Homo sapiens: one gene and its partners. The protein of the gene in region 1 interacts with the protein of each later gene in a pairwise test. Each region holds a gene or a part of one and is shown in the gene's direction. Other genes may lie near its edges. The genes, in order: XRN2, CDKN2AIPNL, CRY2 and CDKN2AIP.

Region 1 (7,018 bases):
CAAGGTCTTTCCATATGCCCCCATTCCAACTTTCAGGATCCAATTCGTTCCCAATCAATGCCCTCACTTTAGAAGTAGACAACCTGCAAAGTCAAAAATTCAATCTGCACTTTAATTCAGCCACTTACAGGATGTGATTCGGAGTTGATTTTTAACAATCTTGGCTCTGCAGCTATAGGAGATAAGGGTCTCTTTCAGGGCAGAAATAGAAAGTTTCAGGTCACTTATGTTATACTTGAGCTGGGAATTTGAATCCCTGAGCTCATCCTTTTCTTTTCCCACTTTGTCCAGCAACATTAGGGGCAACCAATCTCATTATACTTGTTATTTTGGCAAATATGTTATAAAGTATCATACGCATGGTCACCCAGATCCTGCTTCTTTTTAGTTTTGGTAATATTTTGTGTAATTCTACTACTTCATCATGCCATAGACTATCAAGTGTTTTATTTACTACTGGAAAGTCATTCCTGTTTTTAATCTAATCAGACTAGAGAACCACTTCCAGAAACCTCAGAACCAATTACAAAAATGCATCCCTAAGATTCCGTTCCGCTTGAACCACTTCTAGTACCAGAATCTGTAGCTGTCAGCGTTCTCTAGAGACATGGAATCAACATGTGGGCATATACAAAGACATTTATTATAAGGATTTGGCTCACGTAACTATACAGACTGGCTAATCCAAATCTGCAGTGTAGGCCAGCAGATTCAGGACTCAGGAGGCAGATTACATCTCAAGGCAGTTGGCTAGAGAATTCCCTCTTGCTTGGGGGCCAGACTTTTTGTTCTATTCAGGCCTTCAACTGATGAAATGAGGTCCACTCACATTATGGAGGGCAATCTGCTTTACTCTACTGATTAAAAATGTTTATCTCAACCCAAAATGGCCACAATTACTGTTTTAAATACATCAGGTTATTCACAATGAATTTTGTAAGGATAAAGAAGGAAAGGAATCACTTGGTAGAAGGACCAATAGTAGGCAAAAAAAAACTGAGAATTTTTTTCTATGATAATTACAATGTTAATGGGGCTTAAAAATGAATTGATGAATATTTAAAAACATCCTAGTTTCCACATATTATATATTTTTCATATTGTTTTTCACATTAATGTAATCCAGATACTAGCTGTGGCCTTCCTCTCTCCCTTTGAGATCTGGGCAAAAATGTTTCAAAACCTCTGGGTTCTCTGCCTGTATAAGTCCAAAGTCTGGTTCAGTATTTCTGCTAATTTATTTTCTTTTTTTTTTTTTTTTTTTTTTTAGATAGCTTCTCGCTCTGTCACCCAGGCTGTAGCACAGTGGTGCAATCATAGCTCACTGCAGCCTTAAACTCTTGGGCTCAAGTGATCCTCCTGTCTTAGTCTCCCCATTTGCTAGGATTACAGATGTGAACCACCACACCTGGCCTCCCTGCTAATTTCCAACACTAATAAATTCTCACCTCTTCTGCTTCTAGAGGTCTGCTATGTTGCCCACCCCGTGGTGGTTCCAAACCACAGTGACCCCAACTGGAGACTTTTTATTTGATTTCTACAAGAAAAACCCATACCAAGCCTGAGTCTGACAGGCTTTACTGGACACATTGGGCCAGGGAAAGTGTCACAATACTTAGTCCATATCCTCCTGCCGCCTTTCAAGTTTCTTCTCTCTTTTACCCACTCCTTCTCTGAGTGCCAAAACTCCAATTTTAGTACTTCTATGCAAACCAATTTCACCACCCAGGTGAATTAGCTTGCACTCCCCAAATTTTGTTACTGGACTCTTTCCTTTGTAAGGGATAAGAATTTAGCCCAAGCCAGCTTAGGGCAAAAGGAAACTTTTGGCTGGGAGTGGTGGCTCACACCTGGAATCCCAGCACTTTGGGAGGCCAAGGCGGGCGGATCACAAGGTCAAGAGATTGAGACCATCCTGGCCAACATGGTAAAACCCCATCTCTACTAAAAATACAAAAATTAGCCGGGCGTGGTGGCGCACATTGGTAGTCCCGGCTACTTGGGAGGCTGAGGCAGGAGAATCGCTTGAACCTGGGAGGTGGAGGTTGCAGTGAACCGAGATGGTGCCACTGCACTCCAGCCTGGCAACAGAGTGAGACTCTGTCTTAAAAAAAAAAAAAAAAAAAAATTTGGCTCACAGAATCAAAGGACAGACTTAATCAAACTGCAGGAAGAGAGGGATTTAACTGGAACCAGGGAATTAACCCTGCTTCTCTCATTGCCTACTGGCAACAAGTCCCAATTCTTATCTTTTAGCGTTCACGCACTGGAAAGATGCAGTCTTAAATTTCTTATGGTTCAAAGCTCAAAAATGCTGGTAAGGCTGGGTGCAGTGGCTCACACCTGTAATCCCAGCACTCTGGAAGGCCGAGGTGGGCAGATCACCTGAGGTTAGGAGTTCGAGACCAGCCTGGCCAACATGGTGAAACCCTGTCTCAACTAAAAACACAAAAATCAGCGGGGTGTCATGGCAGGCGCCTCTAATCCCAGCTACTCGGGAGGCTGAGGCAGGAGAATCGCTTGAACCCGGGAGGTGGAGGTTGCAGTGAGCCTGGATCTTGCCACTGCACTCCAGCCTGGATGACTGAGACTCCGTCTGAAAAAACAAAAACAAAACAATAAACCCTCCCAACCCGCCAAAATGCTGGTTAAGGATTCTAAATGGCTCAACTTGGCCAGCTGTCTATCCCTGAACTGCCTATGGTGTACATGTTCCTATAACAGCACCTCCCAGGGAAACCAGAGGGGCTGCTTCCAGGTAAAAGGAGGAATTTCACCATAGACATAATACTTTGGAATAGTTTTGGCTATCCTTAAGTAAAACACGGGATGACTATTTCTCTAATTTCCACACTAGTAGTTTAAACAAAGTAGTCATCAGACCACAGAGGAGGGGGCAATAAATACTGCCTGTGAGGTAACTCGGCGAAATACTTTCACAGAGGCCTCATGAGGTGAGCATTTAGCATCGTGTGTGATGTGTGTCAAACCAAGAGGGGATTCAGGGAGACTTCCAGGCTTGAGCAAACGGACAAATATACCTCCTCTTCCAGACCTCTCCTTTCATATGGAAAAAATTCGTTTGGGACCACCAGAAAACAAAAGATAAAAGTATCGTGTTAGAACAAGGATGGATTAAAAATGACCTTTGCTTGAACTGAAACAGAAGCTATGTGCATAAGTGACTTAACTCCTCTGTAACTTGGCTTTCTTATCATTTACACGAGGGTGCTAACAGTACCCTCACAAGGTTCAAGTGAAGATTACATAGGACAATCCCTTAGTCAATGTCTTGGTACACTGTAAAGGCTCAGTAAATGCTGGAAAATCATATTAGCAACTATTTTATACCCGTAATTGTAGCTGGAAGATTGTATTGGATGCTAAATACCGGCTAGATTCCATTCGGTAACTATCATAATTATTTATTTGCATAACAATCAAATTATTGGTGCAAAGCAGCCATTATTACTGTAAAATGCTTTAAAATGCTCCTTTTGATAGTCCAGGTACGTACTGCAGCACAAAACTAGGAGAAACCAGGAAATGGAAGTAACGAGTAAGTTTGGATGCTTCGATTCTACCCTAGATTGAGACGGGTGAGCATAGAGGCAAAAAAAGACATTTTCTTCCAAACAAGAGGTGACCAAACGGGCAAGGGAGACCTCCTCCCGGGCATGCAGAGCGCAGCGATTCTGTGCCCAGGGAGCCGGAGGGCTGGGGCTGGGAGATCCCGGCGGAGCCCCGGCAGAGCAGTCGCCCGTGAGCCCCCGCAACTCAGACGCGCTCGGCCTCGCGCTCCGGGGCTGGGACCACCGAGGGCGAGCTGCAGCCTTCGCCACCCGGTCCGCCGCCGGACTCCGCCTCCCACAAACAGCCCGGCAAGGCCCTTTTCCGCCGCTCCCTCATCCAGCGAAGCCTCCTTCCCAGCTTCCCCGGCGGCGGCGCCGTGACGTCACTTCCGTTCTCCAGCGCGCACGTGGGAGGAAGTGCTGGTGCCCTCTGCCGCTGCTCCCGTCTCTTTGGTTACGCTCGTCAGCCGGTCGGCCGCCGCCTCCAGCCGTGTGCCGCTATGGGAGTCCCGGCGTTCTTCCGCTGGCTCAGCCGCAAGTACCCGTCCATCATAGTCAACTGCGTGGAAGAGAAGGTGAGGAGGCGCCAGGCGGCCGCCACACTCGAGCCCGGGCCCCCGGCACGTCTAGGCCGCGGCCCATGGGCTCCGCCGCCTGCCCCCGGGGAGCCTTGCCGGAGCTCGCGCCCTGCTGCCAGCCTCGCGAGCAGTCGCAGCCCCACACGCGATGGGACGCGGGCTGTGGGATTCAGCACCCCGGGGGCGAGGAATTCAGGACCCTCGGCGGGGCAAGGGCCTATAGGGTTCCGAACTCGCAGGAGGGTCGCTCCTCCCCTACTCGCTTTTTCCCGGCACCGGAAGGCCCCGCCCACTGCTTTGTTTCCTCTCCAGACCGCGCATTTTGGGTCTCGGAAGAGGTTCAGAGGCTGTTGTTGAGCAATGCATGCCAGGTCAGCTGAGCTAGCGGGTTATGGATGCACGGATTCGGAGGCCAGCTTTTTGACAACCTTGTAAAGGAATCCCTGGCGGCGACCTTTTCGTTGTTTACCAATTGTGCCGGAAAGGTTTTCTCCTAGTGTTCAGGACCATTTGTTGTTCTGGTTAGATTGGACGCTGAAAGCAGTATGTCAGGTCCAGGATGAGCGCTATAGAATTCTGAGAAGTTACCCTTCTCTGTGTGCCCTGACTACTGAACGGGGTGGGTGCTTGTTGAAAATTTCAAGATTACTGGATGTACTTGAGCAGTACAATTTTTGTTGTTAGTTAATACGTAAGTAGATTTTTGGCCATTATTGAGTTTTGTTTTTATTGTTTTCGTCATTCCATGCGGATTCGATTTTGTGCTCTTAATTAGAATTTCTGGATTGGAAACGTTCAGAGGCACATCACGCGTACCTCACTCCTTAGTTTTTGAAGGCAGTGCTTGCCTGTCACTGTGAACTTATTTCTGCTTTTTTTTTTTTTTTTAACTTTCTTGGCTTCTATCCAAGGAGGAACCAAAAGCCTTGTCTTAGTGACATTCCCACTATTTCTTGTTTTTTTCAAAAAGCAACTGCTAAATTGAATACTTGTTTCCTTTGTAAAATTTTAATCGAACTTTATTGAACTTTACTTGCACGTGGGTTAAACAAAAAGCAACAGTTCTTGCTCTACCCCTTCTCATCCCATTTCTCCACCTTTAACTGTTTTGGTTCTGTCTCTAAGTATCATACTTATACGTTATCACTTTTAGATCTGTTGAATTCTAGCTGGAATAGGAGAGGATTTAGTCACCTATTCAGCCCTCCCTCTATACTCTTAATGGAGTAAATCACTAGATATATATTTTTATTGGTAAGCTTTATAACTAAGTAATTTGCCTTTTTCATTCCATCGCCTGTGTAACGTATCCCTTGACTCAATGCTTTCTAAGGTCGATCTTAGCTTTTCTTCCCTTTCACCTCAAGTTTGTCAGCTGTACTTTTGCGTTGTGGGCATCCAAAATTAAATGATCAGGGCTTTGACTATACAGATTTAAAATGCTGAAAAATCAGATAGGATAGTTGACTATTGACACTGTGTAGATTCAGGTTATGTACTGTGATTTTGTTTTTTGTGCTGCTTTTGTCTTTTTCCCTGGGGCTGTCTTTCTTTTTCCACTTTACATCTTGCCGCGCCCGGACTCTATTTTACCAGGTAGTCTATCAAGAGTCATCTTTCTTCTTGAATAGTCCTTCTTGGGGTCTTATTTATTTTTGTTGCTGTCACACCTGGCTATTCTGTAGGCTTGCTGGAAAGCTGCATCTGGGATTTTATTATTATTATTGCTATCATATCTTTCTTCAGTGGGAGGTACTGTTTTCTGGATCATCATCTTACTTCATTTGTTTATTTATTTAGAGACGGAGTCTCGCTATGTCTCTTAGGCTGGAGTACGGTGGCATGATCTCGGCTCACTACAACCTCTGGCCTCCTGGGTTCAAGCCATTCTTCTGCCACAGCGTCCAGAGCAGCTAGGACTACAGGTGTGCGCCGCCACGCCCAGCTGATTTTTTTTTAGTAGAGACGGAGTTTTGCCATGTTGGTCAGGCTGGTCTCGAACTCCTGACCTCAGGTGATCCGCCTGCCTCAGCCTCCACAGTGCTGAGACTACAGGCATGAGCCACCATACGTGGCCTTTTTTTTTTTTTTTTTTTTTTTGGATTTTTAGTAGAGACGGGGTTTTGCCATGTTGGCTATGCTGGTCTCTGTCCTGACCACACGTGATCCGCCTCCCTGGGCCTCCCTTGTGCTAGGATTACAGGTGTGAGCCACGGCGCCCGGCCCATCTTTCTTCCTTTAAATCGTTTTCTTAGTTTTTATTCTTAATTCTTTTTTTTTTTTTTTTGAGACGGAGCCTCGCTCTGTCTCCCAGGCTGGAGTGCAGTGGCTCAATCAATCTCGGCTCACTGCAAGCTCCGCCTTCGGGGTTCACGCCATTCTCCTGCCTCAGCCTCCTAAGTAGCTGGGACTACAGGCGCCCGCCACCACGCCTGGCTAATTTTTTTGTACTTTTAGTAGAGACGGGGTTTCACCGTGTTAGCCAGGATGGTCTCGATCTCCTGACCTTCTGATCCGCCTGCCTTGGCCTCCTTATTCTTAATTCTTAAGAAATGCTGTGTGGGATGTGAGATTTCCGAGTCATTGTAGGACCCAAAATAGCTCCATTCTACCCTTATACACGTGAATGATCATTAGCTAGGCATGGAATTCGAGGTGTTTTTTTTTTCTTCTTCTTTGAGACGGAGTCTAGCTCTGTCACCCAGGCAGGAGTGCAGTGGTGTGATATCGGCTCACTGCAGCCTCCACTTCCCGGGTTCAAGCCGTTCTCCTGCCTCAGCCTCCCGAGTAGCTGGGACTACAGGCGCGCCACCACGCCCGGCTAATTTTTGTAGTTTTAGTAGAGACGGAGTTTCACCATGTTGGCCA
Region 2 (7,920 bases), on another chromosome or scaffold:
CTGGCCTGAAATATTTCATAAACAAAAAATTAACTCTAACAAAGGGAAAAAAGAAAGAGGAAAAAAAGGGGGCAAGCGATCTGAATAGACATGTCCCCAAAAAGATATACACACGGCCAATAAGCACAAGAAAGATGCTCAGGATCATTACTTATTAGAAAAATGCAAATCAAAACAACAATGAGGTATCACTTTGTACCCCCTAGGATGGCTATAATTTAAAAATTAAAAAAGGGAAAATACTAAGTGTTGGCAAGAATGTGAGGAAGTTGGAACCCTCATGCATTACCAGTAGCACTGTGGAGAGTAGTTCAGACACTGTGGAAAACAGTTTGTTCAAAAAGTTAAACACAGCTGGGCACGGTGGCTCACACCTATAATCCCAGCACTTTGGGAGGCTGAGGCGGGAAGATCACCCGAGGTCAGGAATTCGAGACCAGTCTGGCTAACACGGTGAAACCCCCGTCTCTACTAAAAATACAAAAATTAGCCAGGCGTGCTGGCAAGTCCCTGTAGTCCCAGCTACTTGGAATGCTGAGGCACGGGAATCGCTTGAACCTGGGAGGCGGAGGTTGCAGTGAGCTGAGATCACGCCACTGCACTACAGCCTGGGCAACAGAGTGAGAATCTGTCTCAAAAAAAAAAGTCTGAATCATGAAAAAAAGTTAGAAACAACAAACTGGTCAATAACTGGACTTGCCACATTGTTCTGTGAAGTGTTAATTATTAACTTTTTTGTTTGTTTGTTTTTGAGACAAGGTCTTTCTCTGTCTCCCAGGCAGAAATGCAGTGTTGCTACTATAGCTCACTGCAGCTTTGAACTCCTGGGCTCAACCGATCATCCTGTTTCAGCCTCCCAAGCAGCTGGAACTATAGGTGTATACCACCATGCCCAGCTAATTTTGTAATTGTTTGTAGAGATGAGGGTCTCACTGTGTGTGGCCATTAACAATTTTTTTTTTTGAGACAGTCTTGCTCTGTTGCCCAGGCTACAGTGCAATCGTGCGATCTCAGCTCACTGGAACCTCTGCCTCTCAGGTTCAAGCGATTCTTCTGCCTCAGCCTCCTGAGTAGCTGGGATTACAGGTACGTGCTACCACACCTGGCTAATTTTGTATTTTTAGTAGAGACAGGGTTTCGCTATGTTGGCCAAGCTGGTCTCGAACTCCTGACCTCAGGTGATCCGCCTGCCTCAGCCTCCCAAAGTGCTGGGATTACAGGCCTGTGAGCCACTGTGCCTGGCCAATATTTTATACTGCTTAGCATTTTGAAAGCATAATGTTAACAACATCACAATTTTTTTTTAAAGAAAGAATACCTGGCCAGGTGTAGTGGCTCATGCCTGTAATCCTAGCACCTTGGGAGGCTGAGGCAAGAGGATCACTTGAGCCCGGGAGTTTGAGACCAGCCTGGATAACATAGCAAGATCCCAACTCTATGAAAAACTTAAAAATTAGCCAGGCATTGTGGCACACACCTGTAGTCCCAGCTACTCATGGAGGCTGAGGTGGGAGGATTTCTTGAACCTGGGAGGTCAAGGCTGCAGTCAGCCATGATGTGGCACTGCACTCCAGCCTGTATGGCAGAGCAAGATTCTGTATTAAAAAAAAAAAAAAGAATACCTATTTGTGCACTTTTGGGTTTACAATTGTATGCATGTCTGAATATGTTCGTCCGTATGTTATGTATATGCATATGCTCCATAATTGTCACAGATATGCTAAATAAGGTAGTTGCTGCATGACCTTTAGCTTTTTCACACCCCATAGGCAGGATTGGCTGTGTAACTGCAGCTGCTATTTGCAGAGCCTGGGTTCCTATTTCTGAGCTAACCTCTGTACTATACAATCAGGTGACCAAGACTTTCTGAGCTAACCTCTGTACTATACAATCAGGTGACCAAGACTTTAGCTCAGAGAACCCTCAACAACTTTGAGTTTTTCTTTTTTTGAGACGGAGTCTCACTCTGTCACCCAGGCTGGAGTGCATTGGTGCGATCTCAGCTCACTGCAACCTCTGCCTCCTGGGTTCACGCCATTCTCCTGCCTCAGCCTCCCAAGCAGCTGGGATTACAGGTGCCCACCACCACGCCTGGTTATTTTTTGTATTTTTAGTAGAGACGGGGTTTCACCGTGTTAGCCAGGATGGTCTCGATCTCCTGACCTCGTGATCTGCCCGCCTCGGCCTCCCAAAGTGCTGGGATTGCAGGCATGAGCCACCACTCCCAGTCTAACTTTGAGTTTTTCTAAGTTTGGTCAGCGGCAGGTGGAAGCAGAATTACCTGGGGCCTTGAATCTGAACATCCAATGGTGAGCCTGGGGGAGTCTGTCATTTTAACGAGCCTCTCAGGACGTGGGATCTGCACTCACTTTTGGGACTTTTAGGTCTGTGCACCAATTCCTGATTGCTGGGAGTAGCTAACTCTGTCTTTGGTCTCACAGGCCTGTTGACACTTTGCTTGCCCACATTTGCATGAATATCATGCCTCCCTGTTGTTAACCATTATGCCATATCACTGAGCTTGGTGCTGGGTCTTCAGGTTCATTCTATGCGGACTGCCCTGTATTTCCATGCTTTGTTGAGTCTCTGATTTCTGGGGACCCTGATGCCCCAAAAGAAGCTGCAGAAGCAGCAGACAGGATGTAATCAGCTCTCCCCACAGGCCACACTCACAATACAGGACCTGCACTGGAGCCCTAGATCGTGGATTCTAGGCTCACCTCTGTACCCCAACCTCACATTTGACTGGGGGCAATGGGGAAGCCTATTAGGTCAATAATCTCTCAAAGCTGGTGAAGGCTCAAGTGACTCTTTGTGTGAAGGGAAAACTTTCCTTTGCTCTCTGAAGGTTAGTGAAAATCAATTGACAAAAGGCAGATTAAGAGGAGAAAAGGCAGCCAGGCACTGTGGCTCACGCCTATAATCCCATCATTTTGGGAGGCCGAGGAGCTTGGACCACCTGAGATCAGGGGTTCGAGACCAGCCTGGTCAACATGGTGAAACCCCGTTTCTACTAAAGATACAAAATTAGCCGGGCGTGATGTCAGGTGCCTGTAATCCCAGCTACTCAGGAGGCTGAGGCAGGAGAATCACTTGAACCTGGGAGGCAGAAGTTGCGGTGAGCAGAGATCACACCATTGCACTCCAGCCTGGGCAAAAAGAGTGAAATTTGCTCTCAAAAAAAAAAAAAAAAGAGAAAAGACATACAAGTTTATTAATGTGCATAGTTAATCACAGAGTGATTACCCCATCATCCAGAGTGTGAATATTTTAGATGGGTAGTAAATGATTTTTAGGGTAATTCAATGGGCTTGAAGAACATGCAATGGCCTGGGACAAAGTCTGTTGGGCCTGCAGAGGAGACAAGGGTTTGTGACAAAAGTCTGTCCTAGTGTGTTGACCATACTTCAGTCTTTCCTCCTGCAAAACAAATTCACTTAATGAAAACTCAGGGAGGGAACCAGAGATAATTGTTTCCTTTGGCGTTCTGGACTAAATTTAGGCAGATAAGGGAACAACTTCATCTTGTGCTTTGGGAGGAACAAAGAATTGACAGACAGGAGTGTGTGTTGGTGGCGGAGGTCACAGAGACCTTGAGGCTTCTTCATCAGTTCAGCATGTCAAAATACATTTTGGGGTGTTGGTTTCTGAGCCCCAACACCCAGTTACTGTAGTTGAATGCTTCCAGGGATGGAAAATTCACCACTTAAAAGGAAGCTCTTTTTTCTCTCAGTGTGTCTGCTACCTGAGACTCGAACAGACAGCAGAGTCATGCCAGCTAAATAAAAACTTTCAGGTCCAGCCAGTTACGATGGCTCATACCTGTAATCCCAGCATTTTGGGAGGCTGAGGGAGACGGATCACTTGAGCTCAGGAGTTCGAGACCAGCCTGGGCAACATGGCGAAACCCTGTCTCTATTTAAAACCAAGTCCAAACTTGCTCATTTCCTCTGGACACATTGTTTCTGGCTCCTTCCAGCATCTTTTGTAAACACAGGTGTCACTGTTCTGGTTAAAATCCTTCAGCGGCTCCCCATTCTTGGGATCTAGCCAGGATCCCTGCCTGGCCTACTGGCCTTGCTGACCTCTGCAACTTCATCTTCTCCATTCTCTACCTGCCCTGCCCCGCCCCCCAACCCCTCCTACCCCCTATCTTGCAATTCTCTTACCAGGCCATGCTCTCTCTTGCTTTGACCGACTCCCCTTTACTCAGAAAACTGCTCATTCTTCACTTCTCCAGGATCACTTCCCTGACCCCAAGACTAGATTGGGTCCCTTGCTTATTCATGGTTGTAGCACGCTGAACTTCTCTTTACTAATACTTGTCAACGCTGAAATTCTCCATTTACTTGAGCAATTATGTCACTAATGTCCACTCCTCCACTCCATGGTAAAGTTCAGGCGAGCAGGGCTCCGAATGTGCTCTCATTGCCTCTCCAGCACCTAGCAATGTGCCTGGCAAGTATTCACGGGATGGATGGATTACTCGCTCCAGGAAGGCGGGCCCCAACCTTCGTGGCTGTGGAGACCCCTGGAAGTCGACCGTGACCCGGGCCCCCTGATGTCGCTCAGGATGAGGCGGTGCCCGGGAAACTCTCAGGGCAAGGGCACAGCATAGCTCTGGCTGGCATCCAGCTGCCAACTGGAAGAGGGCGCTCCGAATCTGTGTTTAGGGACCTCAGTTTTCCCACCGGTTCCCCGCAGGGTCGACCGCAAAAGACCCTTGTAGCCCTGGGTAGACCCAGGGCAGGAGCCACGGGCTGCGGCGGTCTGAGGAGCCAGGAGCCGCTCTGTGCCCCCGCAGGCCGCCGCTCCGGGCGAGGGCGCTCCAGGTTGGTCTTCTGGAGCAGTCGTGCGCTGATGGGGCCCCTCTGGCCGGCAGGCGGTGGCGCAGTGCGCGTCGGGAAGGCGGCGGGCTATCCGGTCCTCGGCTGCGGCGGGCACCATGGTCGGTGGCGAGGCGGCTGCCGCAGTGGAGGAGCTGGTTTCGGGGGTGCGGCAGGCGGCCGACTTCGCGGAGCAGTTCCGCTCCTACTCAGAGAGCGAGAAGCAATGGAAGGCCCGCATGGAATTCATCCTGCGCCACCTGCCCGACTACCGCGACCCGCCCGACGGCAGTGGCCGCCTGGACCAGCTGCTCTCCCTCTCCATGGTCTGGGCCAACCATCTCTTCCTAGGCTGCAGGTGCGGACCCCTGCCGGCCGGCTGATCCTGTCCCCTATCTTCCGACCCTCAAGGCCTCTCCCAGGGCTCACCCCTGACCCGAACCTCTGCCCCAGACTGAACCCGGGCCCAACCTCCATCCGCATTGGTCGGCCCGAAGACTGATTCCCACCCTGGAGGCCCCTTGGAAAGATCCTTATCTTTGAGCCTCAGTTTTCTCTTCTGGTAAAAGGGTGGTTATGATGGCTGTAATAATTAAAGGGTGAAGAGCTAAATACATGGCGGGTTCAAAGGTTGCTATTGTTATTTGTATTACTATTATTATTAGCTCAAACCATCACCTTTGCAGTATGCATTCGAAGTCCGTTAGCCCCTGTCACCTACATGGCAAACGTGCAGAGAGAGAAACGGAGATCCCCATTTTACAGATGAAAAAGCTTAGGGAGAGAAGTGATATACCTGGGGCCATGCAGCTTCTGGCAGGATTGATGGATTTTAATCACTAATGAGAGGATGTAATCTGTATCCTATGGCTTTTTCTCCTCACTCCACAGCCCACGGGGTCCTAAGTAGGAACCAGCTTCACCTCTCTGCTTTCCCTCTTATGAAAATGGCCGATGCCTTTTTGTGAAGGTCTCAAAGCCCACTTCATCCTGGCTGCAGCACCAAAAGGACAAAGGCCCGCTTTTGAAGTGCCTGATAAGGCATTCCTTTCACCCCTCCATGAGGAAGGTGGCAAATCTTGAGACTCCCTATTAGAGAGCTTCGATTTTCCTGAAATTGTGTTAGGAAAATAGGGTGACTTGGTTTGATCTTGGTTTCTATACCTATTATGGCTGCCTGACTCTGGTCATTTGGCCCCTGCAGGCCTAAGCCACTTGGTTTTGCTTCACATATTGGGGTTTATTAGAACAGTACGTAGGGAAGCAATGCCAGAGGCACCCGTCCCTTTTCCCTGCCTTCTAGGTGCTCCTGGGAAATCCTGGTTTTCCATGGTTAGGCAAATGTCAGAGAATTGGGGAAATAAATAATGTTTTTGTTAGACTAACATTCCATGTATTTAAAAAATAAAAATATTTTGGTCCTCATCCTGTATCTGAGAATATCTGTTGCTGGATGTACAGTGCCTCTGTTCTTCTAAATCTTGAAACATCTGCTGTACTGGTATTTCTGAAGTCCACTTCTGTATCTACAAGCAAGAAGTGTTCACAGGGCCAGGCACGGTGTCTCACGCCAGTAATCCTAGCACTTTGGGAGGAGGATCACTTGAGGTCAGGAGTTGGAGACCAGCCTGGCCAACATGGTGAAACCCTGTCTCTACTAAAAATAAAAAATTAGCCAGGCGTGGTGGCACACGCCTGTAATCCCAGCTACTCGGGAGGCTGAGGCAGGAGAATTGCTTGAACCTGGGAGGTGGAGGTTGCAGTGAGCCGAGATCACACCACTGCACTCCAACCTGGGGGACAGAGCAAGACTCCATCTCAAAACCTTGTGGGGAACATGTATAGGTTTGCCCTGCAGTATCAGGTCAGTTCTCTGAGAGCTGATTTTATAGTTGAGCAACCTGCAGTTTCTTATTAATCCACAGTGACAATTGTTCCAAGGTTTTTACCTTACTACTTTTTATTGTGCAGTTACAATAAAGACCTTTTAGACAAGGTGATGGAAATGGCCGATGGGATTGAAGTGGAAGACCTGCCACAATTTACTACCAGAAGTGAATTAATGAAAAAGGTAAATAGGATTTCCAAGTGCATGTGATGAAATGGTGTAGAGTTAACAGTCCCTGCCTTGATGACACTATATTAGAGTATATTGTTTTTGAATGCTCTTTACTGCCCCAAAGACCTATACCCTTTCATTTTTATTTCCCCATAATTGGTATAAGCCTTTTCATAAATAGTTGACAACTCACTGTGGTAAATTATGCATTGTTGATGAGGTAACACATAAGCTTAACCTCTTCCGGTTGTTTAGGAACATTGTTTTGAGATTTTTGCTTGATGTTTAAAAAGATGTTGGCTAGAATACTTAAGTTTCCTACTTGTTAAAAAATCTCATTGGTAAGACTCATCCTTACCCCAGGTGTGAGTGCCGGTGTGAGTGCCGACCTGACTTGTTTGGCTTCTGTGATTTGCTGATAAGAACGTGCCTGGAGCAATGTCGATGGCATAGCTGTTCTCTACCCTTTGGGGTCTGATCTCAGGCGATGGGCTTTTTACAGTGAGTCTTGCCTAGAGTCTTGAATCTGGACACTGGAGCTGGGGCTACAGAATGTGGCAGAAAGAACCTCAGAATATGGAGCTGGGCATCCCAGCTATTAATACTTTTCAGAATCACCTCCAAAACATGCTTGTTTCACATTTGTCTGCTCAGGCAGCAGAATTAATTGCTCGCTTATCTTCTGAAGTTCCTTTGGCACTTTATCCAGGGCTCTTTTAAAGCAGTTGTGACCTTACAGATGGTGTCTAAAGTTCTATTTAGTCTTTACAACTCCCAAACCTAGTATACTTATACCCCAGAGAAGGTACTCAGAAAATACTTATAAAATCGACTGAAGCAGTAGAGTAAAAAGCTGCTGGCCCCTTTTTAGGTCTGCCCTTAGAAACATAGGTAAGCCCATTCCTCCACATTTAGGTCTTGTCTTGGGAGGTGGGGCACATATAGAGGTCCTCTTCCATATGGGTGTCAAGGAACTAATCAGATTCTCAGTTGCTCATAAAGTATTTCAGTCCCAAATAGTACACCCCACTTGAT
Region 3 (7,021 bases), on another chromosome or scaffold:
ATATCCCAGAGATATAGCTAGGTCATCCATTCAGTCATGTAATGTATTTTTATTGAGCTTCTGCTAGGTACTAGGCCCCATACTAGGTATAAGGGTAATGATGATGAGTGAGACAACATGGTTTCTGCTCTGAGAGTTCACACTAATAGGGGAAACAGGCAAGTGTATCATTGTCATATAATACATGCTGCAGTGGAAAAAAGACAAGGTGCAGAAGAATTATATTGAAGGAGGAGGTCAAGAAGGCTTCTTGGAGAAAATGTAATTTAATAATATTGTTATTCACAGGTTACAATGAGTATTCAGTGATGTAACCTATATGAACTATAAGCATGGTACCTGGCATATAGCAAGGGCTCAATCAATGTTTAATGCTGATATCCTCGAATGAGGGATAACTGGCCCTGCTAAGGACCCAGTCCCCGGGCAGGGCTGAGTCAGGACCAGACCAGCCTGTGCATGGCTAGGACATTTGCCCCTGTGGTTCAGAGCTTTCAGAGACTATGACCAGAGACTTTGGAGAATGTGTTTTTCTTCTTGCAAGTTGCATGCTCTAGGGCTTTCTGTGGGTTGACTGTACAACCATTCACTGGGCCAGCTTGCTATGAGATCTAGAAATTCCTACCAGAAATGACTAAAGGCTTAGGAAAGAACTTCCTCCTTTTCAACATGTAGCCCCTCTGGTCAGTTTCCTCTGACCTCCAGACTAAGGATCGCTTCCCCTTTCCTGACTCTCTCAGGGCTGGAACCTATTAGCTCTGTTTGCTATTGGCCTCAGGAGTGTTGCTGTGGAAACAATTAAGACACTTCACATAGCACAACTCTGCCAAGAAAACTAGGCCACAAGTCTGCAGGGCTGTGAGGAGCTCTGGGAAAAGCTTGCTGAGCAGGCAGAAGGCTGTGGTCCTGTCCCACCTGTGAGTCAGTGCCACTCTCTGGGACTGGGGGTTTCCCAGGAGCGTTGTATTTATGGCCTCCTGCTGCATTCTCCTACCTCAAGGACACAGCAAGTGCACAAGGCTGCCTACCTCTCTCCCAACTCCACTGTTGCTGTGCTGTTGGCTTCGCCACACTGCCTGCCCTCCTCAAACTTTCTGAACCTCAGCTTGTTTGCTTTCCAGATCAAATCCCTGTTCCTAGTTTTTTCTGCTGCCCATCAGATAGGTCTCTAGACTAGCTCTGTTCTCTCCCAGGAAGGAACTGAGAGTCCAGCTTCCCCCTCCTCCCCAAACACAGTGTTGAGCATAACAGATCCTCTCCCCACAGGAATGGGGAGTGACCCGCTTGACCTTTGAATATGACTCTGAACCCTTTGGGAAAGAACGGGATGCAGCCATCATGAAGATGGCCAAGGAGGCTGGTGTGGAAGTAGTGACGGAGAATTCTCATACCCTCTATGACCTGGACAGGTAAGAGATGGGGCCCAGGGATCAGGTTACCAATTGTGAGAGTTAGTAATTTGGGCCCCTGCTGAGCGGAACTCAGAGAGGTTCAGCATTAGGGCTACCTGACCCAGGAGGCATGGCATCTTCTAGAAGCTGGAGGAGAATAGGCCAGAGTCAGGACCTGTAGAACAGGTCACAAAGAGCTTTACCCCATTGAGGTGGCAGAGAGGCTTGTTAGGCCCAAAGCATGGAAGCAGTGAGGACCCACACTCAGGGTATTTACAAATCTGCTCCTAGTATGCCCGAGTCCCACCTGTGCCTCATATTCCCACTTCCATCCTGCTCAACAGCTGCCCTCTGACCTCAGTGGACCCTGTCTGTTACCCCTCCAACAGACCTCTGTTCACACAGGTCCAGTTTTTGTACCTAAGATGAGTTCCTAGGCTGGGCATGCTGGCTCATGCCTGTAATCCCAGCACTTTGAGAGGATCACATGAGTCCATGAGTTCAAGATCAGCCTGGGCAACATAGTGAGACCCCCGTCTCTACTAAAAATAAATATATTAGCCATGCATGGTGGGACATGCCTGTAGTCCCAATTACTGAAGAGGCTGAGGTTGGAGGATCACTTGAGCCCAGGGGCTTGAGGCTGCCATGAGCTGTGATCATGCCACGTCACTCCAGCCTGGGTGACAGAGCAAGATCCTGTGTCAAAAAAAAAAAAAAAAGAGTTCCCAGGTTCTATGACTATCTGGGTTTCCAGGCCATGTTGCTTGGTGGCGGGGAGGGCTCTAGAGATCCCTGCAGGGAGCTGCTAACTACAGAGGAGCCTCCTCCCCTGGTGACAGCCTCTGTGCTTTCAGAGATTCTAGGAGGAAATCCTCTCCTCCCCTTCCCTGCCATGCCAGAGCTGTCACCCTCCTGCTGCTGCTGCTGCTGTTGCTGCTGCTGCCAAGCCAGCAGCCGCCGCCGCTCCCCACCCCCACTTCCCAACCCAGTGCTGGCTGCCAAGAAGCCAGGTCACACAGCTGTGCACGTGAGCCGGGCCCTCAGGAGGAGAGGCTGGGTGTGGAGATCCTCCTCCTGCTGCGTGCCAGAGGAGAGGGAGGCATAGCAGAGGCAGCAGCCGACCATATATCTCCACTAACGTGGGGAGAGCAAACTGAGAAATGAACTCACCCAGCCAGATGGGCCTTGCGTAAGCTACTTCTTGGCCAAGAAGAGCCCCGGGAATGTGGCTCCATACCATCCCAATTCATCCTTATATAAACAGCCTCCGTTCTCTTCTTCGCCCTCTGATACTCCTTCCTTCTTGCATGAGTGCAGTTATGTTTTCCCTGGTCATGAAAAATACTTTGTAAACTACAAGACTCTCTTTAAGTATCAGTTGTGGCTATGAACTCTAGCTCCAGTCTCTGAATTTGGGAGGATAAGCTGTCTTCCACCTCTCTGTTCAATGTTCTAATAAATGGAGGCTAAGAAGGGGATGATTTTCCAAGAAAGGAACATGTCTGCTATTCCTTATGATGTTAGAGTTAAAAAAAAAAAAAAAAAAAACATGTCTTCAGCTCTTATCAAAGAACTTTCTCCAGGGCTTACATGGGTGGTAGAGGCCTATGGGGATTCCCTTAGCTTGGACAGATAGGCCAAGTGCCAAGCAGGCTAGTAGGGATTTTTCTGTGATTAGAGATTTTGTCAGTCTCTGTCTTTAGGCGGCTCTGCGTCAACACCAGGGAGCCCGGAATTGAGTCCCAGCTCTGGCCCTGCCTTGCTCCATTACTGAGGCACCTGCTTCAGCTCTCTGGGCTTTATTTTCCCTCTCGGTAAAATGGAGATGCGGCCTCCCTTGCCCCCTCCTTTCCACTCAGGCATGGGACCTGTGAGTGGATGAGGAAAGCCACCCTCAAAGCCTTCAGAGTCTGGGTTCTTTTTTGGGTGGGCAGGGACCCACATCACAGGGCCATGTGGGTAACACTAGCTATGCTTTGGGCTCCCCAGGATCATTGAGCTGAATGGGCAGAAGCCACCCCTTACATACAAGCGCTTTCAGGCCATCATCAGCCGCATGGAGCTGCCCAAGAAGCCAGTGGGCTTGGTGACCAGCCAGCAGATGGAGAGCTGCAGGGCCGAGATCCAGGAGAACCACGACGAGACCTACGGCGTGCCCTCCCTGGAGGAGCTGGGTGCGTACTTCCTGCCCAGAGCCACTTGTGCTGGTGCCTGCTTTTGTGTAAAGAAATTCTTTGTGAAAGTAATGCATGTCATTATAGAAAGGTTAGAAAGCACAGGAAAACAAAAATGGAAATGGCAGTCACTATTACTCCACCACCCAGAGGTAACCACAATTAATTTTAAACTGTGTCCTTCTAGTATTTGTTCTGTTCATACTCATACATGTAATCTTCTGTTTCTGGTTCTAGATCATGCCTCTATTTTTGTACTAACCTCTCGCAGACAATACAGGCACTGCCTGGTGCTGGTGTCCATGGGCTTCTCAGTAACAAGATAGCTAGTATTGCTTCTGTTGAAAGCAGGGAATCTGTCAGCCTCTCAGATTACTAACTACACTCTTTCACCCCTCCCTCTTTCTTACCTTTTTTTTTTCTTTTTTAGACGGAGTCTGGCTCTGTTGCCCAGTCTGGAGTGCAGTGGCACAGTCTTGGCTCACTGCAACCTCCACCTCCCGGGTTCAAGCAATTCTGCTGCCCCAGCCTCCTGAGTAGCTGGGACTACAGGCGCCTGCCATCACGCCCAGCTAATATTTGTATTTTTAGTAGAGACGGGGTTTCACCATGTTGGCCAGGCTGGTCTTGAACTGGTGACCTCGAGTGATCCACCCACATCGGCCTCCCAAAGTGCTGGGATTACAGACGTGAGCCACACCTCCAGTCTTTTGATCTGAACAAAGCTATTAGCCTTTTTCACCTGAAAACCACAGTTGTTGCCAGCTAATCTGAAAAGGCAGGAGGTCCGGGATTGTTGTCATCTACCTGGAGCGATGAGGGTGCAGGGGAAAGCAGAGAAAATAGTGACTGTGGGAAGAGAACCAAGTTGACCTAGAAAACGCTAAAACTTTAAGGATTATCTAACCCCCAGTAGCACCGAGACACTGTGGTTCAATTCTCATAAAGTTCAAATAACAGAACAGCCGTGCCGGGCTATCACTGAAATGGTCAAACCTCCTGTCTTGTGACCTTTCCTTCTCTTCAGGGTTCCCCACTGAAGGACTTGGTCCAGCTGTCTGGCAGGGAGGAGAGACAGAAGCTCTGGCCCGCCTGGATAAGCACTTGGAACGGAAGGTATGGGCCGTTTCTGAGACACAGAGCTGCAGATACTGATATCCACACAGCAGGAGATACAGGTCATGTCCATGTCCTTTAGTCCCTCTTAGCTCACATTGTTTGGAAAATGAAAAATCCTCCTATCCTCCTGATGGCCATAACAACAGCAACACTAACAGCAACTACCATTTAGAGAGTACTTACCATGTGCTGGTCACTAGGCTCAGCATTTCTGGGTTAAGCACCTGCTGGCATTTCTTTTAATCTTTCCAATAGCCTGCAAGGTAGGTACTAAGCTGTTCATTCTACAGATTACAAAATTGAGGCTTAGAGAGGTTAAGTAACTTGCCTGAGGTCACAAAGTTAGTAATTACAGGTTGAGTATCCCTTATCCAAAGTGCTTGGGACCAAAAGTGTTTCAGATTTTAGATTCTTGAATTAGGAATGCTCACCTTATAACACAGTAAGACCTTGTTCTATGTTATTCTAAAGCTATGTCGGATTGCTTTTCTTTCATCTGTGGGCAGGTTCCCCCTACTAAGAGGATATCTGGTTAGTAAAATCTATAAGATTATTTTGTGTTGATGTGTCTCCGCACCTTTTTGCTGGAACTCTTTCAGCGTGTTGATTTCCATATGCTTGGACACAGAGCAAATGGCCCACCTCCCAGTGCAGTGAGAACTGGGGAGGAAAGAAGCCCAGGCCTCAGAGGCACAGTGTCACAAAGTCCTCACTCCCCTGCAGCTAGAGGAGCAGAGAAAGTTCTCATGTCCGAGAACAGTCAGCTCCTAGTTTCCTGCCCCCTGCAGCTGGTTTATAAAATGTCAGCTTTTTCTATGCCTGCTAAGATGGCTAGGTATTTTGCCTAGCAGCCAGATGATGACGATAATAGAACAAGGAGGCCAAGGCAAATCTACTTGGGAAGAATGTTCTCCAGCCCTGGAGGTGTCCAGTCAACAGTGAAGGCCCACAGCCTCGATGTTTCTACCTGGTTGTTTCCTTCAGCCTGGGACGAAAGCAAGCCCCACAGACTTAAAGGATGAGACTAGCTATCTCTGTCCACATCAAAAGGTTCACCTAGAGATTCTTGGGCCCAGTTTGAAGACAAAGGTTGGGCCAAGGGGCAGAAGGGTGGAGATGACAAATGGGATTGCAGGAGTAGAGTAAGGCTTAAACCTGTAAAGAGCTATCATCTATGGTTAGTTTTTATCAGCTGGAGAACATTTTGTAGAAGGATGTCCCTTAGGTCACCGACAGGAGCTCCTTTTCCACATACCCCCAGAGAGCGGGCCCCTTCTCTCAAGGGCCCTTACGCCATGGACATATTCAGACTCAGTGGTGCCCAGAGGAAATACTGTGTCCTGCACATCTGGGAGAACAAATGGTGCTAGAGATACAGGAGTTGAACCTGATTTCAGGATGTTTATTTTAGCTTCCTTCAGTTCTCCAAATCTGAAGGGAGCACCTACTCATGCCAGTTTAGCAATACTAGATAGAAGAAGGTATGTGCCTCTTTTCCGAAAGCACCAGGAAAAGTCCCAAGGCATGTTTTCATTGTCCTGGTTTGGGTCATGTGACTGTCCCTGACTCAATGACTGTGGCCAGGTATAGGAGGTGGTGCTTTCCCTGGCCAGACTTGCATCATGAGTCCGCTCCCAGAACTGGAAGGTAGGTTTAGCTCTGCTTTATCCACTCGGACTAGGATCAGGGAAGGCTGATTCTCCACAGGAATATGAGATGCTGTTACTGAAAAGCAGAGGAAGCTACATGATCTTTACCACTGGGTTACTCAATAGTAGATGAGGGCAAGCATCTCTCTATAAAAGTATTCTGATTATTAAATTAAAAAGGAATGGTGGAATTTGAATACCACCATTTTGTAACCCTCAATAATGATGCATTATGTATTGGTGACTGCTGACACCATAGAAGGAGGCAAGCATTATGTGCCCCCTGTAGTCTTGTCAAAGGGATCAAACCTGAGTCCAGTCCAGTTTCTGGTACTAGCCACCAATGTGCAGGTGATACACAGGACACAGCACTTGTTGAACTGCACCATGAGTATACAGTCAGCAAAATCCAGACTGTGGGAATCTTGGCAAGTCAGATGGCCTGGATTCTTTCCCAGAACAATGGAAAGGAAAAGAAAAAAATGGCATAAAATGTGCAGATTAAAAGAAAATTAAATAACATATTAAAGTTTTTTTTAAGGCCAGGCACAGTGACTCACACCTGTAATCTTAGCACTTTGGGAGGCCAAGGCAGGAGGATCTCTTGAACCTAGGAGTTCAAAACCAGCCTGGGCAACATGACAAGCCCTCATCTCTAAATAAAAACAAATTAGCCGGGTGTGGC
Region 4 (7,918 bases), on another chromosome or scaffold:
GATATAACTTCGCAATCTACTTAATCCTCACAGCAGCAAACAAATTTATTAACATTTATTAATGTTAAGGCTTAATGTAAAAACAATGGCATAAATCCTGCAGGTAAGTAGGAAAACTTCAGAATTATCCATCTGCTGTCGATTTATCACTAGAGATTAGATTTTATCCTGAACGCATATTTTGGGAATATCTAAATATCTGTAATATGGTCTCTCCAGAATTTTCTTACATGATGTGGAAATCAAGAGCTACCTGCCTGAAGTTGATAGATTTAAAAATGATGATTAAGTATAATATTTGAATTTATGACAGGTAGCCAACGGGAAAACAATAAAAGATAACAAAAATTAGGAGAAAAAAGGGGTAGTGTAAATGATATGGATTTCTCAGCTTCAACATTCAGGAGTGAAATAAGTACTGCTTAAAGTTGAAAAAATAAGAAATGGAAGTATAAGCATTTAATTTGGAGTTATGAAAATAATCACCCAAAGAAATCAAGATAGAAATGACATGAATGCTGATGTCCACAGAGTGGGACCAGGTTGAGTGAGGGAGATTGTTTGCTTTCATTTATGCCTCTTTTTTTCTACTTAGATGTTTCATTTTTGTGTGCACACATTATATTTTTATTTTATTTTAATTTTTGAGACAGTCTCCCTTTATCGCCCAGGCTGGAGTGCAGCGGTGCGATCACAACTCACTGCAACCTCGACCTCGTGGGCTCAAGTGATCCTCCCACCTTAGCCTCTTGAGTAGCTGGAACTAGAGGTATGTACCAACACACCCAACTATGTTTTGTATTTTTTGTAGAGACAGGGTCTTGCCATGTAGACTAGGCTGGCCTTGAACCCCTGGGCTCAAGTAATCTGCCCACCTTGGCCTCCCAAAGTGTTAGGATTACAGGTGTGAGCCACCACGCCCAGCCTGTAATTTTAAATTGGCCAAAAAGACTATGTTCATCTAGGCAGCCTGCTCTTCTGCCCTCTAAAATATCCATTGCGAGCATTCTCTGCACCATCAGATGGCCTCCATGTCAACGTCTCAGCTCCAAACTTACAAACGTCTTCTTTTAAAACAGAGGAAGTGTCTGCCCACCTAAGGTTAATCTCTCCACCTGTGTGTGGATCCCAGCCACACCTATGTCTGCAGAAATTGCTAATTACCCTCTTTTTCTTCAGATCCTCAAACTCTCCTTTTCTGTGAGTTGCCTTCAAGCAGTGGGCAACATGCTCAGGCTACTCCCATCTGAAATTGAAGCCACCTTGACCCCATGACCCTGTCCAGCTTCCTCTATCTTCTCCCCTTTACAGCCAAATATCTCCATTTCCGACTCCTGAACTCACTCTGATATGGAGTCTTCATCACTGCAGTAAAAACGGCTTTTGCCAAGCTCACAGGTGGCTCCAGTCCGTAATCAGACTGTTACTACCTATCTTCATCCTACTTGATTTCTCAAAGCTTCTAACAGAGGGGATCACTCTTAAAACATTCTCTTACTTTTTCAGAACATCCCACCTTATCACTGTAATTTGGCAGATTTGTGTCCTCACACATCATTAGCATAAAATATTTCCCCTCACCATGAAGTATTTCTCACATCAAGTCATAACCTTGGCCATAACTGGAGTATTTGCTCCTCACAAGCCTCTCCACATGCAGACCTTCCTGCCAAAGGCTTTCTTGCTTCCACAGTCACATCCAGGAACAGGGGCAATCCCTTCATGTTGCTCCATGGGAAAGCCATCTGCAGAAAAGCCAGCTTGCCGCTGGAATTTTTATTGGATGTCTTCAGAGAGATATGCTACAGAACCAGTTTCAGTGAATGGGCTTCCACTTACAGCAGAAAATTTAATCCTGTGAACTCAGTCACTTGTTTGAAACTCAATTTGGGATGATAGTGGATCTTTCTCAATTCATTAGAATTCTCTCCCTTTTCTCCTCTGAGTAGATTTCTAGTGAGGGCAGTGGTGGGGTGAGGCTTGGTTATCATCCTAGCATTGTCTTGTGCTTTCTTCCCTGTGGGCTCTGCTGGGAGTATAACTGCTTGATCTACCAGCACAAGCAATGCACACTGATCATTTCAGGAGAGGTTGAGGGTCCTCTCCTATTGATGCGGCCTGACGGGCACTGGTCTGATGACTTGCTGAAAACTAGCTGCATCTCCCTTTGCTGACAAGCTGACCACCCCTAGCCTCATTCACCTTGGACCCTGGTGCTTGGTAGGCACTTCACCATTCAACTCTTTCTTGGGAACCTTTTGGATCTCCTCTAGGCCCTGTGAGATATATGTGCGTAAATGCGTGTGTGTGTGTTATGTATATATACACACACACATATGTATATATATATACACACGTGTGTTAGGAGCAGAGGAGGGAGTTGTATAGTTGGTTATCAAAGCTATAAAAGGCCCTTTCTATGTTCATTTCTAAAGGCCAACGCATACAGGCTCAGGGCACGATTGGGCTGTCTTCTCTCAGAAACTCGGGCAGAGCCAAGTCCTTCTGCTCTTAGACCCAAAATCTACCTAGCAATTTCTAACAGCCAACACTTCCCACCCTGCATCTTATTCCCTACTCCCATAGACTTTCCTAGTTATCACCTAAATTCTCCTCTCACCTTTTCTCTCAGAACGTCTCCCCCAGCTTAGAGAGGAATTTGTCTCTGTAGGTGGGAGGGTCTTTAAAAAAAAATGAGGCCGGGCACAGCGACTCATGCCTATAATCCCAGCACTTTGAGAGGCCGAGGCAGAAGAATTGCTTGATATTAGGAGTTCAAAACCAGCCTGGACAACAGTGAAACCTTGTTTCTACAAAAAAATAAAAAATTAGCCTGTCGTCGTGGTACCCGCCTGCAGTCCCAGCTACTTGTGGTTCATAGTCTTTGAATCTTTATATGCAAAGTCAACTTTTTAAGAATCAAAAAAGAAAAATGCATGTATCTTTTATTCCAAGCACCTGGTTTTTGCACAAGTACTCCATCTTTCAGACTCTATCGCTTTTATTATAATTAAAAAAATTGTTTGAAATTCAGGCTCTACTTGTTCTCCTTTCAAGGCAATGAAGCCCATGAGTGGGAAGAAGACTACAGGGCAACAAGAAAAAAAGTGAGAACATTATTATTATTATTTTTTGAGATGAAGTCTCACTCTGTCACCCAGGCTGGAGTGCAATGGCTTGGTCTCGGCTCACTGCAACCTCTGCCTCCTGAGTTCAAGCGATTCTCCCGCCTCGGCCTACAGAGTAGCTGGGACTACAGGCACGTGCCACCACACTTGGCTAACTTTTGTATTTTTAGTAGAGATGGGGTTTCACTACATTGGCCAGGCTGGTCTCGAACTCCTGACCTCATGATTCGTCCGCCTCGGCCTCCCAAGGTGCTGGGATTACAGGCGTGAGCCACTGCACCTGGCCGTGAGAACATTCTTGATTTAAAATGCACATATATAATCTAGGTATGCGATCATAGCTTCTTTTACTTGCCATGGTCCCCTTGCCAAAGAATTCATGAAAGGAGAAATCGTAATTTCTCCACCTTTTAAATAGCCAGATTTCTGCAATCCGTCCACCCCCTCTAGATTTTCAGCAATTATCTGTGAAAAGGAGGAAAGAACAGCAAACTAGAAGCAAAATCACAAAGCTTCAAAATTTCTTTGTGCCTCCGTTTTTATGTAGTTTCTTTTGGTATGGCAGGAAAATGGGCAATATTGTTTTCATACAATAGCTGTATTTTGTTCCAGCATGCACATAAATTACACAGTTAACCTTATCTGATCTTACCTAAAGTGACCTTTTTTTGCTTGCTTATTCTGATTCATGCATTTTTACATCAAAGTCTACATTTATTGAAAGAAAAATTTCATAATTTATATCATTTAACGTATTTATCTTACAGTGCATGTATACCTGGAATGGGAAACGTAACAATAAGCCAGCCAGCAGTTAGAGTACGTAACTGTGGGAAATGTAAAGTGGAAAAAAATATATAGAAGGAAAAAACAGCTCTAACAGGGAGAGAGGTTTGGGGCCCTATAGATAAATAGGTACATTTCCACTCCACCTCCGGACATCTGCCGGTTGGTGGTAAAGCTGTTGATTTTAGGAAATTCTAGAGACAGAGCGTTGTCGGGGTGTTGTTTTCCTACTGACCAGAACAGGAAGGCAATGCCTGGATTAACTAGAGACCTAATAAACTGCGGGAACAAGCCCTACCGCTGCGGGGCCAGGGCCAGCTTCGAAGGCTGCAAGCCTCACGGCAACACGGAGCCAGGTCCTCGTGTGACCTTACTGTCTACTGCTGCTATGTAAGGGGACTGGCACTCCCGCCCTCCTGAAGGCGCGGAGACCCCGACGGCCTCGGAACGCTTCGCTCGGGCACACTGAAAGCAGCGCGAGACGCAGCTCCCAACACTCTAACATGGAGGCCGGCTTTTGTTTGTTTTGGCCCCGCTCACACACAGGCGTCTCAGGGCGGAGACCACAGGCCCCGCGGCTGCGGGCGGCTCAAGGTCCCCCGGGACGCCCCCCTAGCGGACTTTGGCCGCCGCGCCCGGCTGCCTCCCTTGCCCGGGCCCTGCCCCTCTCGCCTCTGCTCCCGGCGCCGCAGCTGACCCGGCGGGGGAGGAGGACGGCAGGAGCGCGCGGCGTCACAAAGCGAGGACAGAACGCCCGGGGTTCCGCCGAGACTCGGTCGTCCCAGGCCAGCTCGACTTGCAGTCCGCCCTCGTGGGGCGGGAGACGCCCGACGCCCGCCCACCTCACCCCCGGGGTGCCCTCCGTGGCCTCACGGGGACGCAGCGTCGCAGCGGCCCCGGCGCCGCAAAGCGTCTTGGGAGCGCCGGCTCGCGCCGGAAGAACGCGAGGGCGCGCGGCGGCGGCGAGGTTATAAAAGGGAAGAAGCCGGCGGTGGGCGGAAGTGGGCGGTTCGGCGGCTCTGGGCGCTGTTGTTTGGTCTTTAGGCCTGCGGAGGGGCGTTATCTGGAGGGCCGCGGGTGCAGGCCGCAGTGACAGGGCCGCTCGCCCCGCTAGTCCTGCCTGTCTCCCGGTGCAGCTGTGTTCGCGGCCTGCAGGCCCAACATGGCGCAGGAGGTGTCGGAGTACCTGAGCCAGAACCCGCGGGTGGCAGCCTGGGTGGAGGCGCTGCGCTGCGACGGCGAGACTGACAAACACTGGCGCCACCGCCGGGATTTTTTGCTTCGCAACGCCGGGGACCTGGCCCCCGCTGGCGGCGCTGCCTCCGCTAGCACGGATGAAGCTGCCGACGCCGAGAGCGGGACCCGAAACCGGCAGCTGCAGCAGCTCATCTCCTTTTCCATGGCCTGGGCGAACCACGTCTTCCTCGGGTGCCGGTGAGTGAGGCAGCGTCCCTAACCAGCACGCCTCGTTTTGTGTGCCACCTGCAGACCGGGGCCCGGCGCCCTCCGCGGGACCGGCCTCGGCGGGGAGGGGAAGTTGTGAAGCGCGGGAATCCGCCGGCCCGGCTGCCCTCTAAGGGGGAGAAGGGCGTCCCTGCGAGGAGCCGACATGATTCCCGGACGTCTGTGTGCCCGGTGGTGTGGGCGCAGCTGCTGGTAGGGTTGCTTGTGTTAGGGAACAACGCTCTTGGGGACGGGTGCGAGATTTAAGATTAGTGAGGAGGTGCCCTGCCTCCCAGACCCTGGGGCACTTGTTTATGGGGTTCCAGGAAACAGTTCTTGGCGGTTGGTTCACTTTCTTGATTGCAGCCAGGAAATGCAGTCCCTGTGGCCTGTTTTTTGCACAAGTAGGACCTTAGAAAAAACACTTTTTAAAAATGACTTTTCCTTCTTTTTCAGATACCCTCAAAAAGTTATGGATAAAATACTTAGTATGGCTGAAGGCATCAAAGTGACAGATGCTCCAACCTATACAACAAGAGATGAACTGGTTGCCAAGGTGAAGAAAAGAGGGATATCGAGTAGCAATGGTTAGCAGATCATAGATGTGAACATACATAGGAGTTTAGAGCATAAGTTTGATATAATTAGGAATTATTGTTACTAATTTTTTTAACAAGCCAGAATTTTTATGTTATTAATAAGTAATAAAGTTGGAATGTTAAACCTAAAGTATATATCTGTGTCTTTAGGCTTTGAATTTGATAGTTTGCTTTGACTGCTTTAGATTTTGAAGTGTCCACTGTTGTCTGATGCTGTTATTTTTTTAATATTAGACATTCATGATGTTATTCAACACTGTTTTAAGAAATTAATGACTCCACACTTTTTAAAGAAACGATTAGTCTTGAAATGTTTTCACTTTGTGCCTTTATTTTAATGTGTATTTGTCTCATCACCCGTTTTGTACGAGGTATTCTTAGTCACATATCTATGTTTTTCTTCTTTTTAGAAGGGGTAGAAGAGCCATCCAAAAAACGAGTTATAGAAGGAAAAAACAGTTCTGCAGTTGAGCAAGATCACGCAAAAACCTCTGCCAAGACAGAACGTGCATCAGCTCAGCAGGAAAACAGTTCAACGTGTATAGGGTCGGCCATCAAATCAGAGAGTGGGAACTCAGCTCGGAGCTCTGGCATCTCCAGTCAGAATAGCTCTACAAGTGATGGAGATCGATCTGTTTCCAGCCAAAGCAGCAGCAGCGTTTCCTCTCAGGTAACAACGGCAGGATCTGGGAAAGCTTCTGAAGCAGAAGCTCCAGATAAACACGGTTCTGCATCATTTGTTTCCTTGCTGAAATCCAGTGTGAATAGTCACATGACCCAATCCACTGATTCTAGACAACAAAGTGGATCACCTAAAAAGAGTGCTTTGGAAGGCTCTTCAGCCTCAGCTTCTCAAAGCAGCTCAGAGATCGAGGTGCCCTTGTTGGGCTCCTCAGGAAGCTCAGAGGTAGAATTGCCACTATTGTCTTCCAAACCTAGTTCAGAGACAGCTTCAAGTGGGTTAACTTCCAAAACTAGTTCAGAGGCAAGTGTTTCATCATCAGTTGCTAAAAACAGTTCCTCATCAGGCACATCCTTACTGACTCCCAAGAGCAGCTCTTCAACAAATACATCGCTGCTAACTTCCAAGAGCACTTCCCAGGTAGCTGCATCACTACTAGCTTCCAAGAGCAGCTCCCAGACCAGTGGATCTCTGGTTTCCAAAAGCACTTCCTTAGCAAGTGTGTCCCAGTTGGCTTCTAAGAGTAGTTCTCAGACTAGCACCTCACAGTTGCCTTCTAAAAGTACTTCACAGTCAAGTGAGAGTTCTGTCAAATTCTCTTGCAAGTTAACCAATGAAGATGTGAAACAGAAGCAACCTTTTTTCAATAGACTATATAAAACGGTGGCATGGAAGTTGGTAGCTGTTGGTGGCTTTAGTCCCAATGTGAATCATGGAGAGCTCCTAAATGCAGCTATTGAGGCTCTGAAAGCAACACTGGATGTATTTTTTGTCCCACTAAAAGAATTGGCAGATCTGCCTCAAAATAAGAGCTCTCAAGAAAGTATTGTTTGTGAATTGAGGTGCAAGTCTGTGTATTTGGGCACTGGCTGTGGAAAAAGCAAAGAAAATGCAAAAGCAGTTGCATCAAGAGAAGCATTGAAGTTATTTCTCAAGAAAAAGGTGGTGGTAAAAATATGTAAAAGGAAATACAGAGGCAGTGAAATAGAAGATCTAGTACTCCTTGATGAAGAATCGAGGCCTGTAAACTTACCTCCAGCACTAAAACATCCTCAAGAATTACTATAATGTGTCCAAAATATCACTGCATACAATATCTGGTATTTGAAGAGAAAAACTGACTTTTGTATAGTATAAAACACAGGCTTTCACAAATTTTGTATTGCTTTTTTTCCAGTTTTGCAGAAAATTTACATTCTAGTTCTCTTCACACAGTAGCAGTTGTAAATAATTTATGAATGACAGTACACATTAAAAGGTATGCATTAGCAGCATATTAG

The links.
Region 2: the proteins of XRN2 (region 1) and CDKN2AIPNL interact in binary tests that used the Homo sapiens proteins (3 or more experiments, as listed by UniProt).
Region 3: the proteins of XRN2 (region 1) and CRY2 interact in binary tests that used the Homo sapiens proteins (3 or more experiments, as listed by UniProt).
Region 4: the proteins of XRN2 (region 1) and CDKN2AIP interact in binary tests that used the Homo sapiens proteins (3 or more experiments, as listed by UniProt).

The regions. Positions count from the first base shown.
Region 1 is NC_000020.11:21,299,327-21,306,344, forward strand, and holds the start of XRN2 (5'-3' exoribonuclease 2), read left to right. Parts: upstream 1-4,004; 5' UTR 4,005-4,072; coding exon 4,073-4,147; intron 4,148-4,171; exon of another isoform or gene 4,172-4,212; coding exon of another isoform or gene 4,213-4,521; intron 4,522-7,018. UniProt on the Homo sapiens protein: Possesses 5'->3' exoribonuclease activity. May promote the termination of transcription by RNA polymerase II.
Region 2 is NC_000005.10:134,408,880-134,416,799, reverse strand, and holds the start of CDKN2AIPNL (CDKN2AIP N-terminal-like protein), read left to right. Parts: upstream 1-4,918; 5' UTR 4,919-4,945; coding exon 4,946-5,184; intron 5,185-6,797; coding exon 6,798-6,897; intron 6,898-7,920.
Region 3 is NC_000011.10:45,857,465-45,864,485, forward strand, and holds part of CRY2 (cryptochrome-2), read left to right. Parts: intron 1-1,266; coding exon 1,267-1,409; intron 1,410-3,383; coding exon 3,384-3,568; intron 3,569-4,595; coding exon 4,596-4,684; intron 4,685-7,021. UniProt on the Homo sapiens protein: Transcriptional repressor which forms a core component of the circadian clock.
Region 4 is NC_000004.12:183,439,722-183,447,639, forward strand, and holds the start of CDKN2AIP (CDKN2A-interacting protein), read left to right. Parts: upstream 1-4,914; 5' UTR 4,915-5,076; coding exon 5,077-5,348; intron 5,349-5,813; coding exon 5,814-5,944; intron 5,945-6,366; coding exon 6,367-7,706; 3' UTR 7,707-7,918. UniProt on the Homo sapiens protein: Regulates DNA damage response in a dose-dependent manner through a number of signaling pathways involved in cell proliferation, apoptosis and senescence.